2 linked regions of the Homo sapiens genome follow. The protein of the gene in region 1 binds, or shares a complex with, the protein of each later gene. Each region holds a gene or a part of one and is shown on either strand. Other genes may lie near its edges.

Evidence for each region.
Region 2: CTNND1 (region 1) and CDH26 share a complex: the UniProt entries of both Homo sapiens proteins name them as parts of the cadherin:catenin adhesion complex.

The regions. Positions count from the first base shown.
Region 1 is NC_000011.10:57,799,795-57,806,818, forward strand, and holds part of CTNND1 (catenin delta-1), read left to right. Parts: intron 1-1,938; coding exon 1,939-2,402; intron 2,403-3,826; coding exon 3,827-4,010; intron 4,011-4,868; coding exon 4,869-4,986; intron 4,987-6,087; coding exon 6,088-6,241; intron 6,242-6,666; coding exon 6,667-6,684; intron 6,685-7,024. UniProt on the Homo sapiens protein: Key regulator of cell-cell adhesion that associates with and regulates the cell adhesion properties of both C-, E- and N-cadherins, being critical for their surface stability.
Region 2 is NC_000020.11:59,954,050-59,961,446, forward strand, and holds the start of CDH26 (cadherin-like protein 26 isoform a precursor), read left to right. Parts: upstream 1-4,373; 5' UTR 4,374-4,677; coding exon 4,678-4,746; intron 4,747-7,397. UniProt on the Homo sapiens protein: Cadherins are calcium-dependent cell adhesion proteins. They preferentially interact with themselves in a homophilic manner in connecting cells; cadherins may thus contribute to the sorting of heterogeneous cell types.

The sequences.
Region 1 (7,024 bases):
AAAACCCAGAAAAGCATTACCATCTATTGATAAAGAACCACTGTTAACATTTTGGTGCATATCCTTTGAGTTTTTTTAATTATACATGTAACTATATCCTATTTTCCCTCTACTAAAATGGAATCTTAACATACTGCTTAATAGCCTACTTTTAAGCTATCTAAGCTATTCATTTTGTTTCCGTGTTTTTTTTTTTTTTTTTTTTTTTTTTGAGATGGAGTCTTGCTCTGTCACCCAGGCTGGAGAGCAGTGGTGCGATCTGGTATTATACCCAGGAGGCTTTTTGTTCCATGCATGGTATTTTATAATGTTAGTAAATACTTTTCCTTAATTTTATAGTAAGCAGAAAATTTTTATGGTTGGGGTGGATGCAAAAGTGATACATAATAGTTTAGAAGACAACCAATTTTGTTTTACCAGCTGTTTGGGCATTTTTAGTACCCCCTTCTTGATTTGAAGGGTTTAATCTTGACCTTTTTTTTTTTTTCTTCGAAATAGAGTCTCGCTCTGTCACTTAGGCTGGAGTGCAGTGGCACAATCTCAGTTCACTGCAACCTCCACCTCTTGGGTTCAAGCGATTCTCTTGCCTCCGCCTCCCAAGTAGCTGGGATTACAGGTGCCCACCACCATGCCCAGCTAATTTTTGTATTTTTAGTAGAGATGGTGTTTTTCCATGTTGGCCATGCTGGTCTCGAACTTCTGACCTCAGGTAATCCGCCCACTGCAGCCTCCCAAAGTGCTGGGATTACAGATGTGAGCCACCATGCCTGGTCCTGTTTCCGTGTTATTTTAAGACCATCTTGGTCATGGTTTACTAAATGCTTTGTCCATCTGAATCACTGTTGCATAGTTGATGTTGATACCTGTGAGGCAGGCCTTCTGCTCAGGGCAACCTTGAGTATTTGTTGACAGTGGGAGTGGTTTTGTAGAACAAACAATGGCTTATTTGGAGAGCTCCACACAATAGATTATCCTCTCCTGTGGGAGCCAGAAAGAGATGAGCTCACAGATAATGGGTTTCTTCCTTCCTGGTAGTTACGAATAAATAATAGTGTGACAGACTCACCCTCTAGTGGTTGTTGGTAGTACTGAAACAGGAAGAATTGTCTCCTGGTTTGATTTTTCTTACTTTCAATTGCTTTCTCTGTTCCTAGTGGCTGGGCTTCCCAAATGTGATGTTGGTGAATAGGCTTCATTTTGAAAGAGCTGGAGGTATTGTCTTTAGAAATTGGAGGATGGAATCTTACCTCTTAACACATTTGTTGAGTAGCAGACATGACCTTGGAATGACTGTGAAAATTACTTTTCAAGTTTATACCTCATCAGTACCAAAGCCAGATCCTCCTGTGATGTAGCAGGAAGCCCTTTATTAGTTTTTCTCTATCAATCCATCTTTTATAATTTCCAAAATAGGATAAGGAGAAGCTTAAATATGAAATGTATTTAAAGGTCTTATCCTACCAGTTGTTTCCTGTGTGTAAATGCCTAATTTCCTGTTTGGTTAAGGAACTGTTCTCAGACTTCTGTGGCATTGAGTCAGTTGCTTTGGTTAATTCTGTTCTCTGAGAGTTTATCCTGATCTCTACCTAGACAAGTTAATAACTGTCAGATATCATTCAAATAAATGATAAGTAGTAAGGATTTGGTTCTTTCTTTTTGATTAGCCTTTCCTGAATGCTTGTTACTTTCTAAGCCTGCAGACTTCAAAGAAAAAAATGTAGTTTTAATTAAATTGCAGGTGTTTTTAAAATTATTACCTTTTATTTTTACTAACCCATTGAGGAAAATTGATCAGTATATTATTCATGCAAAGGAGAGATAAGATGAGCACACTGAAACTCCAGTTAATCCTCCTTTGCAGATGAGGGTAATGGGAATGTCCAGGAAGCTAGCCATAATGACTTGATGTATTCTCTTGGTTCTTCCAAAACTTCTCAGGAGCTATGAAGACATGATTGGTGAGGAGGTGCCATCGGATCAATACTACTGGGCTCCTTTGGCCCAGCATGAGCGAGGAAGTTTAGCAAGCTTGGATAGCCTGCGCAAAGGAGGGCCTCCACCTCCTAATTGGAGACAGCCAGAGCTGCCAGAGGTGATCGCCATGCTTGGATTCCGCTTGGATGCTGTCAAGTCCAATGCAGCTGCATACCTGCAACACTTATGCTACCGCAATGACAAGGTGAAGACTGACGTGCGGAAGCTCAAGGGCATCCCAGTACTGGTGGGATTGTTAGACCATCCCAAAAAGGAAGTGCACCTTGGAGCCTGTGGAGCTCTCAAGAATATCTCTTTTGGACGTGACCAGGATAACAAGATTGCCATAAAAAACTGTGATGGTGTGCCTGCCCTTGTGCGATTGCTTCGAAAGGCTCGTGATATGGACCTTACTGAAGTTATTACCGGTGAGTTCTAGGCCTAAGGAAAATTGCTAAGTCAGTGTTACTCTCTAGTGATGTTGAGAACTAGAGGGATTTCCAGACCTTTTACTTTTGATGAAAGGTTGTGAACTGGTGGCTGTGGGTCAAATCCATCTCACAGATTTGTTTGGATCACACAGCATTATTGAAATTTTAAAGAACTGGTTGCTGATGTTTAAAATTCAGAAGATTTCACTTAAAATTCCAGATTCTTGGCTTCTATTAAAAACGTGGAAGAGTTGTTAACAATGGATCTCTTTTCTTCCTTAGCAGTATTTGGTCTGAACTGATTGGAGCATGTGCTCTCTAATTTACACTAATCTCCAACACATTCTATTATCTGACCAACTACAGCTGTTTAGGAAGTTGTTTCCCAAACATGGAGCTGTCAACTGCTATTTTTTCACATGCTTGTAATTTCTTTTAATTATCTTCCTCTCTTGACTCACCGGCTTGACCCATATAGACATTTAAGCTTGTGGTTCTTGCTTTATTTAGAGCAGTAGTTTTTCAGATTGTGGGTTGTGATCTATTTGTGTGATCCGTTAGTGAATAAAACAAAATTTTGTGGAGCATAATCAGCATTCCAAGGGAAAGGAATAAAGAAAAAGTAGTATAGACCATTGTTTCTCAGTTGTGGGCCATTTTGCCTGCCCTGCCCTGAGGACATTTGGACATTTGCAGTGTTGGAGATATTTTTGGTTGTTATAACTTGGAACAGGGGAGAGGGAGTGCTACTGGCATCTAGTGAGTAAAGGCCAGGGGTACTGGTAAACATCCAACAATAGACAAGACAGCTCCTCATAACAAAGAATCATCTGGCCGAAAATGTCAGTGGTGCTGAGGTTGAAAAACTCTGGTATAGACAGATCGGAGAGCATTGAGCATTGCTTATAGTTTTGTTTGTTTTTTTTGAGATGGAGTCTCGCTCTGTCACCCAGGCTGGAGTGCAGTGGCACAATCTCAGCTCACCGCAAGCTCCGCCTCATGGGTTCACGCCATTCTCCTGCCTCAGCCTCCCAAGTAGCTGGGACTACAGGTGCCCGCCACCACGCCCGGCTAATTTTTTGTATTTTTAGTGTTAGCCAGGATGGTCTTGATCTCCCAACCTTGTGATCCGCCCGCCTTGGCCTCCCAAATTGCTGGGATTACAGGCGTGAGCCACCACACCCAGCCTGAGCGTTGCTTATAGTTAAACATTGTTTGTTTCATGATCTGTATGTTTATTTTGAGCTATAATGTAGAATATGTTTCTTGGTGAGGGTCGCAAACAAAGCTTGAATATTACTATAAGGTATTTGGTCACTGGGGAAGACTGAGAAGTGATACGATAGGGGGATTCTCTTTGACGTTCTTCAGACATATTGTCTTGAATGCTCAAGAGCCATCTGATGAATTGTCTCTTCCAGGAACCCTGTGGAATCTTTCATCCCATGACTCAATCAAAATGGAGATTGTGGACCATGCACTGCATGCCTTGACAGATGAAGTGATCATTCCTCATTCTGGTTGGGAGCGGGAACCTAATGAAGACTGTAAGCCACGCCACATTGAGTGGGAATCGGTGCTCACCAACACAGCTGGCTGCCTTAGGTAACAGTAGGGACTTTGAGAATATGAAGATGAATTTTTGAGGACTGACTTAAATTTCCTAAAAAAAAAAAAAAATTAAAATTCTTTAGCCTATTCTTTAGCCTCCATTCCTATCTGTATTGCATACTGTAACTCCAACCTTTCTATCTTTGTTGCTATTCTCTCATGTATACCACATGTACCTATATCAGTTTTCTTGCTGTTCCCCACACATCCTCTTCACTTTTATGCCTCTTTGACTTTGTTCATCTACTTTGGTAAGCTTTTGTTCAGCATCTACCACATGTAAGGTGGTCTAGTCCTGGACTTGTGTGTGTCTATGTCCTTGCCCTAGTTATTTGTATTTCAAGTCAGGCTGTGATAAATTCAGCAAAAGGGGTACAGAGTACTAGGAGGTTAGGGCATGGGTGAGGAAGGTCTGTTCTTTCTGTGATGCCTTTCTCTTCTTATTTATCTTTTTGTGGTTAAACTCAAGTGCCTTTATTTTATTAAAGTTTTCCTGAATTCTTTTTATATCCTATAAATGCTGCTATATAATCTTTCTCTCTTTGGAATACACCTCTGTGTGCTGTGTTCCATTCTACATATGTATTATATACTTCCATACGAGAAGTATATATTCCATCTTGAATTACTGCATCTGGTACATATCATTAATCCCTACCCCACAGTGATATAAACATTCAGAAGGCAGGGACTGTTAATCAACTTTCTCTCAACTGCAGTACCTTGCTTATAATAGGTATTTACTATTACAGTGAGTAGAAAAACATATTCAGGAATCTTGTAGGTGTTGAGGGATATTTAAGGGAGGATTTCTGGATTTGAGTCATCTTGAAGCTTCTGGTTTCCCCTCAGGAATGTAAGCTCAGAGAGGAGTGAAGCTCGCCGGAAACTTCGGGAATGTGATGGTTTAGTTGATGCCCTCATTTTCATTGTTCAGGCTGAGATTGGGCAGAAGGATTCAGACAGCAAGGTAAGTGCTGTCTTACCTTTAATGGCTGAGTGAATTTCATTCACCACAACTATGAAGTATCTGTAGGTCAGAGACCTATCATCTCAGGCTTTCAAGTAACATTAAATATTTATACTGTCCCCTACCCCTTATTTTTGAGACAGAGTCTTGCTCTGTTGCCCAGCCTGGGGTGCAGTGATGTGATCTCAGCTCACTGCAACTTCTGCTTCCTGGGTTCAAGCGATTCTCATGCCTCAGCCTCCCAAGTAGATGGGATTACAGGCGTGTGCCACCACACCCAGCTAATTTTTGTATTTTTAGTAGAGACGGGGTTTCACCATGTTGGCCTGGCTGGTCTCAAACTCTTGACCTCACGTGATCCCCCTGCCTCAGCCTCCCAAAGCATTGGGATTACAGGCGTGAGCCACTGTGCCCAGCCAAGCCCTTACTCCTTAAAGTGGGTATTCAACTTAAAACATGTTTTTTGTTTGTTTGTTTGTTTTTTTGAGATGGAGTCTGGCTCTGTCCCAGGCTGGAGTACAGTCCCGTGATCTCGGCTCATTGCGACCTCTCCCTCCTGGGTTCAAGCAATTCTCTGCCTCATCTCCTGAGTAGCTGGGATTACAGGCACCTGCCACCATGCCCGGCTAATTTTTGTGTTTTAGTAGAGACAGGGTTTCACCAGGTTGGTCAGGCTGGTTTTGAACTCCCGACCTCAGGTGATCCACCCGCCTCGGCCTCCCAAAGTGCTGGGATTACAGGTGTGAGCCACTGTGCCCGGCTTTTTTTTCTTTTTTTTTTAAATCTGTCACCTATGTATTTTAAAGCTGCTTAGCTGTCTTCCAAAATTGTACATTGTCTAAGTAGTAAGAATGATGATCCAATTTCAGTCACACACCAAATAGTGGCAGAAGCCAATAAGTCCATAGTTGGACCTTCCATTAGCCTGAGGCTACCGGGATTTCAAGAAGCCTGGAGCACTTAAGAGGCATCCTGAGAAGTTATGGATTGGGTTATGCATTTGAAGATCAACATTTTAATACCTGAGTCATGGAAACCTGTACTTGTGGAGAAATCACAATAGACATTCTTTTTTCTCATTGGCCCTTTTATGTCCCTAAGCTTGTAGAGAACTGTGTTTGCCTTCTTCGGAACTTATCATATCAAGTTCACCGGGAGATCCCACAGGCAGAGCGTTACCAAGAGGCAGCTCCCAATGTTGCCAACAATACTGGGCCACATGCTGCCAGTTGCTTTGGGGCCAAGAAGGGCAAAGGTGAGTCTTGGTTCCTGTTTCTTAGTCTTTAATGTGGGATAGGGAAAGGAAGGAACACTTTAGCTTAAGGTACAAAATACTTGGCAACAGTATGGGAGTCTGCCTGGTTATGGATGTCTTTTTGGTTTGCTGCTTTCCCTGTGTTGTGTGCTTCATTCAAGGTGTGGTGATGGGATGGTGGTTGTGATGTGTTGGTGGTGGTGGTGGTGGTGGTGGTGGTGGTATCAATGAGTGGGGCAGTGGAAAATGAGAACTCAACTAATCTGGGACCTTCTTCCCCATACGTCCTTTGCATTTTCTGTGTTTTTCTTTTCTTCTCTGTGCTTCCCTGCTTATTTGCCCATGATTCTGCTGACATCTTTCTCCTGCATTTTTCTTATTTCATTTCTCTTCTCTGCTTTCTACCTTGGGTGATGCACTGGAAGATGAGTGGTTCTCCAGAGGTGAGTGGAGTCTTTTAAGGTGCTTATCTACTTCTAATTTGCATGTTTTGATTTTAGCTTCCCTAGTATGTCCTTGCCTAACCTTTCCCTGTCTATGCATGTAGGAAAGTTCAGTTGAGGAAGACACTGAAACAAGTTTAGCTCTTTGGAGCTAATAGCTCACGGCATGCTGTTTCTGGGCAGCAGTCCCCATTATCAGAACTCAGGACAATAGCATCAACAGTGGTCATCCTCATCTTACCTATCTGCTGCCTGTTTTCTATCCTTGTTTCTGAATAGTCCCCTGCTGGAACAAGTTGCCCTCACCTGCCCCTTTTCCCCTCGTGGTGCATCTGTGATC
Region 2 (7,397 bases), on another chromosome or scaffold:
AGTTTCACTCTTGTTGCCCAGGATGGAGTGCGATGGCTTGATTTCGGCTCACTGCAACCTCCACCTCAGCGATTCTCCTGCCTCAGCCTCCCAAGTAGCTGGCCATGTGTCACCACACCTGGCTAATTTTTTTGTATTTTTAGTAGAGACAGGGGTTCACCATGTTGGCCAGGCTGGTCTCAAACTCCTGACCTCAGGTGATCCACCTGCCTCAGCCTCCCAAAGTGCTGGGATTATAGACATGAGCCACTGCGCCCAGCCCTGTTTTATATTATGTTAATAGCTGCTATGTCTATGGCAGAGTTGAACCTACTTCACCACTACTGGAAGCAGAACTCTTCCCTGATTATTTTAAAAACCCTTCTCAAGAGTGTTCTGAGAAATTAAACTTTTCTTGTGACTATGAAGAAACGGGAATTGAATTCAGAAGTATTGGCTGGAAAATTATTTTTGTGTTAGTGAATATAGAAAGGTCTTGACTCAGGGGACATATAAGCATGAGCCATTTTATTCTTCCTTAATCTGAGCCTTCAACCAAACCATTTCAATCCCTCAGTTACAACTGGGGCTCATCATTACCCAGTCACGTCAGTCAGTAAAACCAGCCCAGCTTAAAACTTCGATGTCAGCCTTGATGGAAATCTAATCTCTTCCATCCACCCTGGGTGGGCTGGACTCCCAGGTGGGTGTGTGGGCAGGGGAGGCTTGGGCAGCCCCTCCTCACCTTCCAACCCAGCACTGAGATCCTAAGGCATGGTGGTGCTTTGCTGTTGGGACACCTCTGCTCCCTCCCTCTTCCAGGCTCTGCCTCCCCTAGCGTTGGTGACAGAAAGAGAGACTAAGGGAAAGCCTAAGGCCTGTCCTCTGTAACAGGCCACTCTCCCAGCCTTTCACTGCGGCTGGCTCACCTCTGCAGAGGAGGCATCGAATGCCAGCCTTCTCACCTCCCCAGCCAGGAAAGAAGGCTTGAGCCTAGCGCTTTACTTCTCTGGTGTTTACTTGATCCATATGGAAAATGCCAAAGGTAGGCAGAGTCAGGTGCATTTGTCATCTTCCCTCAGTCCCACTGTCCACCTAAGTTCCCCTCCTTTCAGCTGGGCATGAGGCCTGGCCAGCCAGACCACTGTCCACGCAGAAATCCAAGCCGGGTGGGGATGCCTCATGATGCAATCATCATTACTAAAAAAAGAACAGTGAGAACTGGAGGTGGCTGGGGGCACTCCTCAAAAACATGAGAAGGTTGACCCTGGGTAGGTAATTGTAGCTCATACCTCCCTTGCAATCAAGTAACTTTTATCTCATGAGCAATCTCATTTCTTCACTTGTCAGCTTACAGGGAGCTGGGAGCTGCCACCATGTGGCTATAAAGTATTACTGTACTTCCAAGGACACAGAAAGGAGCGCTAGACTATTGTCACTATGATCACATGCTCAGAATAGAAAGGGAGTGGGGACATCTTCAAGCTCAGGCTCACCCAAGATGTGCAGCAGGTGATGCCCAGAATCACCAGCTGAGTTCCAGGCCCCGTGGCCTACCCAAGTAGGGTTGCCGTGTGGGGAACTGGCATTCTGCTTAGTTATTTTAAACGCTTGAGAATGTTGAAAACTTGTTTGTTTCTAATATATTAAAATACCAGTTCCTATGGTGTTTTTTGTTTTGTTTTGTTTTGAGATGGAGTTTCACTCTTGTTGCCTAAGGCTGGAGTGCAATGATGTGATCTCAGCTCACTGCAACCTCCGCCTCCCGGGTTCAAGGGATTCCCCTGCCTCAGCCTCCGGAGTAGTTGGGATTACAGGTGTGTGCCACCATGCCCGGCTAATTTTAAAATACCAATTTCTTTTAAACTTAAAACGAATGTGAAAGTGGAATCCTTCACTGTTGTCCCCCAGCTCCGCCCAGACTAGAACATTGTGAGGCTAATGCCTTTCTAGCAACAATATTTTAGTCCCCAGCGCTATTCTAGCAGCAGGGAGTGCTCAACTGACGTGGTTTTTTCACATATATTTAACATGGTTTAGCTCACCTGACTTATATATTCTAAATTAGTGATTCTAACTTAATCAGTTTTTTAAAAATAGGCTATCATTATAGAAATATCCACTTTGAAAATAGGCACAAGGTATTCAGTTTCTCTTTATGCACAGGAAATATCTATAGACTTTAAAGTTGTATTTATTATTCTTTTCAATAATAAGCTATTAATTTCAATAAAAATAAACTATTCAAATTAAAATATTCAGCAGCATCTCAGAGCTATGAATGTTCAGTTAAGCAAAGAAAGTTTTTTTTTTTTAATTGGGAGATTTTTATTTTATATTTTATTTTTGATGAGTTCTTTTTTATTTTTATTTTTTAATTTTATTTTTCCATAAGTTATTGGGGTACAGGTGGCATATTGGTTACATGAGTAAGTTTTTCAGTGGAGATTTGTGAGATCCTGGTGCACCCATCACCCAAGCAGTATACACTGCACCATATTTGTTGTCTTTTATCCCTCACCCTCTTCCCACTCTTCCCCCCAATTCCCCAAAGTCCATTGTATGATTCTTATGCCTTTGTGTCCTCATAGCTTAGCTCCCACAAATCAGTGAGAATATACAATGTTTGATTTTCCATTCCTGAGTTACTTCATTTAGAATAATAGTCTCCAATCTCATCCAGGTCACTGCAAATGCTGTTAATTCATTCCTTTTTATGGCTGAGTAGTATTCCATCATATATATCTGTATATACACATATATATACATATATATGTGTATATATATGTGTATGTATATATATACATATATGTGTGTATATATGTGTATGTATATATATACATATATGTGTGTATATATGTATGTATATATGTGTATATATGTACATACACATATATACACATATATGTGTATATATACATATATGCGTGTATATATGTACATACACATATATACACACATATATGTGTATATATGTACATACACATATATACACGCATATATGTGTATATATACATATAGATACGCATATACACATTTTCTTTATCCACTAGTTGATTGATGGGCATTTGGGTTGGTTCCACGATTTTGCAATTGTGAATTTTGCTGCTATAAACGTGCATGTGCAAGTATCTTTTTCGAATAATGACTTCTTTTCCTCTGGGAAGATACCCAGTAGTGGGATTGCTGGATCAAATGGTAGTTCTACTTTTGTTCTTTAAGGAATCTCCACACTGTTTTCCATAGCAGCTGTACTATGTTATATTCCCCCCAGCAGTGTAGAAGTGTTCCCTGATTGTCACATCCACACCAACGTCTACTGTTTTTTGATTTTTTGATTATGGTCATTCTTGCAGGAGTAAGGTGGTATCGCACTGCGGTTTTGATTTGCGTTTTGCTGATCATTGGTGATGTTGAGCATTTTTTCATATGCTTGTTGACCATTTGTATATCTTCTTTTGAGAATTGTCTATTCATGTCCTTATCCCACTTTTTGATGGGATTGTTTTTTTCTTACTGATTTGTTGGAGTTCATTGTGGATTCTGGATATTAATCCTTTGTCAGATGTATAGATTGTGAAGATTTTCTCCCACTCTGTGGGTTGTCTGTTTACTCTGCTGACTGTTCCTTTTGCAGTGCAAAAGCTCTTTAGTTTAATTAGGTCCCAGCTATTTATCTTTGATTTTATTGCATTTGCTTTTTGGTTCTTGGTCATGAAATCCTTGCCTAAGCCAATATCTAGAACAAGCAAAGAAAGTTTACCTTTTATTTTATCTGTTTACTACTTTAAACAAGGTAATGTGATAAAAAGGTCATGTTAAGGTAATCAGGGTTAATGTATCACAGATTGTGTTTTAAAACTTGCTTACTGCAACCTTAAGTATTGGTATAATATAATCTCAAATTGTCTCTTTCAGAATTCTCATGCAAAGACTCCCGGGTTGCCACAGAGATCCCTGTCCATAGGGAGGCTCTTTCCCATCTCTCCTCCCTCCCACTTTAATTCCAAACTCAAAAAGGCAGATTAATCTAAGCTTAAAAAAGGTTTTAGTAGAAATAATTTGAAAACCCCAGAGCCCTGGGATATTGTTGGAATAACGATTTTTAGTGCTTTGGAAAGTAAAAGTTGATTTTTCTTTTCTTTCATTCTTCCCCATCCCTTCCCCCTTAATAAAGTTATCATTCTTGTCATTTTCTAGTTTTTTTTGTTTGGTTCAAGAGGATAAGATTATAGAAAATAGTCACTAACATATCCTGCTATAGAAAGAGATGATTGGACCTTCTATTTGGAAACCAGAACAAACAAGGAAACAAAGAAACAAATAATTCTGCTTTCCGATAGGTGCTGGTTTTACTTCCGCTGGCTGAGCTGTTGTTCCTGAGGTCAGACCCCAGCCAGTCTTTTGTGTACGTGCAGGACCATGGTGGCTTTAGTTTCTACCCCACCCTTCCTAGGAACTCTACTTGTGGCAAACGTATGTTCAAGCTTACAAGTCAGCCCACCCCACTCTGATAAATGCAAGAAAAGCTGAAAAGGGAGGAGCAAGATGGGATGAAAGCATCTGGGCCAAAGTGACCTGAAAACCTTTAGAGAAGAAGCTGCTGGCTGAGAAGGAGGTGTGTGGCTCCGGTGAGACCACCAGCTTGGAGGACTGGTCATCAGCTGCACGTTCTGGGTCTGTCTTGGGTATTCCCATATGGCCATGAGATCCGGGAGGCACCCCTCGCTGCTGCTGCTTCTAGTGCTGCTGCTGTGGCTGCTGCAGGTAAGCTGAGCCTGCAGCCTAGTGCTCAGGTGCAGGGAACTGAAAGCAAAGCACAAGCTGGCCCTGCCCCTTCTAGGCTAAGGGAGGGGAGAGGGACTGAGTGTGACCTGCTGGGACCCAGGGCTGGCTGTCTTGAGAATGGCTTAGGTAGCAGGGGCTCTGGATTTATATAAAGGGAAGTTAAGGGTCCCAGTCTGTTTGGGGCAACAGTGGGAGCAGGCTAAGGGACCTGTTTAAAACTAATTTATATAGTTCACACTATTTTTAGTGAGATTACATCAACACACACGTGTTTTCTTTCTTTGTTTCTTTCTCCTTTTGTTGAGACAGGGTCTGGCTTCATCATCCAGGCTGGAGTGCAGTGGCATGATCAAGGCTCACTGCAGCTTTAACCTCCCAGGCTCAGGTGATCCTTCCACCTCAGCCTCAAGAGTAGCTGGGACTACAGTAACTTACCACCACGCTGGCTAATTTCTGTATTTTTTATAGAGATGGATTTTCACCATGTTGCCCAGGCTGGTCTCGAACTCCTAAGCTCAAGTGATTTATTCGCCTTGCCCTTCCGAAGTGTTGGGTTTACAGGCATGAGCCACCTCACCCAGCCAACACACACAATTTTTTTTTTTTTTTGAGACAGGGTCTCGTCATCCAGGCTACAGTGCGTGGTGACATCTCAGTGCACCGCAACCTCCTCCTACTGGGTTCAAGCAACCTCCTGGCTCAGCCTCCCGAGTACTGGGACTACAGGTGCACGCCACCATGCCCGGCTAGTTTTTGTATTTTTATTAGAGACAGGGTTTCACCATGTTGGCCAGGCTGGTCTCAAACTCCTGACCTCAAGTGATCTGCCTGCCTCAGCCTCCCAAAGTGTTAGGATGACAGGCTTGAGACACTGCGCCCTGCCAAGTTTTATAATGATACTTCTGTTCACACTTTACATAAGATTGAGGAAATCTCAGTTGTCTGGATCCAAGGCAATTTGAGCAAACCCATGGGGATGGAATGGCTAAATCCATTGCCCCCAACTGCCACTGTTTAAATGGGAATACAAACTAGTGGAGTCAGGATTCGAAACACATGGGCTTGCTCTGTTTGTACTTAGAGTGGACAGAGGTAATGTTGCATGCGCTTGTTGGTTATGATCTGCTTCGTTGGCTTTCTGTAGGTAGGGAGAGGGAATCATTTCTTCCTTTGAATACCAGCTGAGGGTGGGAAGCAGCCCAGTGGCTGGTAACTGTGAGCTCTGGACTGGGCTGCTTGGCGTCCTGACCTAGGCTCCTTCACAGCCCGCTGGGGACCTAGGCCAGCTTAACTTTGTTCCTTACCTTGGATCAAGTTGAACTTACCTAGGGAGCTTCAAGGGATCTCAGTGCCTGGGTTTTGCCCCCAAAGGTTCAGGTTGAGCTGACCTGGGAGTGCACTGGGTGTCAGTGCACTGGTTTTAACATAACCTTGTTAAGCCTATTTTTCTTCACCTGAAAATGGAGCTAGTAACTGAATTTATCTGAGCCAGTGGTTGTACCAGTGAATGAGGAAATGCGTAAAAGCCCTTGGTACTGCGAAAGTTGTCAGAATCAGAATGGAGTTCCTTATGTTAAAACACACACACACACACACACACACACAGGCACAAAGCCTGATATATAGACACAAAGAAGGTTATGAAAAGGGGGTTCTCACATTTGTAGGCTTGATAACTAAAACTATCACAAAAGCTCTGCAAAAATAACAACTTTGCACAAAGGCCGTTAAAACCTTACACAAAAAATACTTTTTCGAAGAAATCTTCCCAGCAACTTTTTGTGCAAACTCAGACCAGTGTCACCCTTCTTATTGATCTTTGTAGCCAAAGATAATTATTTCAAAACAATGATATAATCCTTCTCATTTTTTCCTTTGAAAACCTTTATCTCCCTTTACCTCCCTGACTCTGCACATCGTTTACCATGGCACACATATTCCCATGGATATGTCCTTGCCCAGACAAACGTCATCTTCTCTTAGAGAGCCTCTGTCTACTATTAGGTTCACAGTTCAGTAACGACCCAGCCGTTTTTCTAATCACAGTGAAAATGGTTGGCAATATTCATTCAGAGCTCATGCTAAAACTATTTACTGGATACCTGCTTTGGGCCAGGCACTGGGAATACACCAATAAACATAATAGGGGGAAAACCCTGTCTGAAAGTGGATAACTTGTTTGGTACCAGTTGCTTGAGGTTTGGAGAATTTTCTTGGTCACATTTTGCCATATCAAGAGTTACGAGTTTCCTTAGTCAGACAGCACATTAATTTGATCTCCAATACTTCACAGAAGTCCTTTTTAGTAGCCCATGTTTGCATGGATTTGAATATAGTCCAGATCAAATCCTGTCCCCATCCTTCCCTCACTCCTGCTCCTACCCACAATGAGTCTGATCAGGAAACAGACCTGAATTCTCTTCCCTCTGGCGTATTAGTGCAGTGCCAAAGCAAATTAATTGACTTCTGAGGGTGGTTGGGTGGGGGTGGGCAGTGGGAATGGGTCTGTGGATTGTACTTCAGTGATTGATGACAGCAGCTTTATGTAGATTCCAGGGAATCAAGACAGATGAAGAGAACATGATTCAATAGATGTAAGAAGTTTTTAGCAATCAGAATGCTGGACCTTT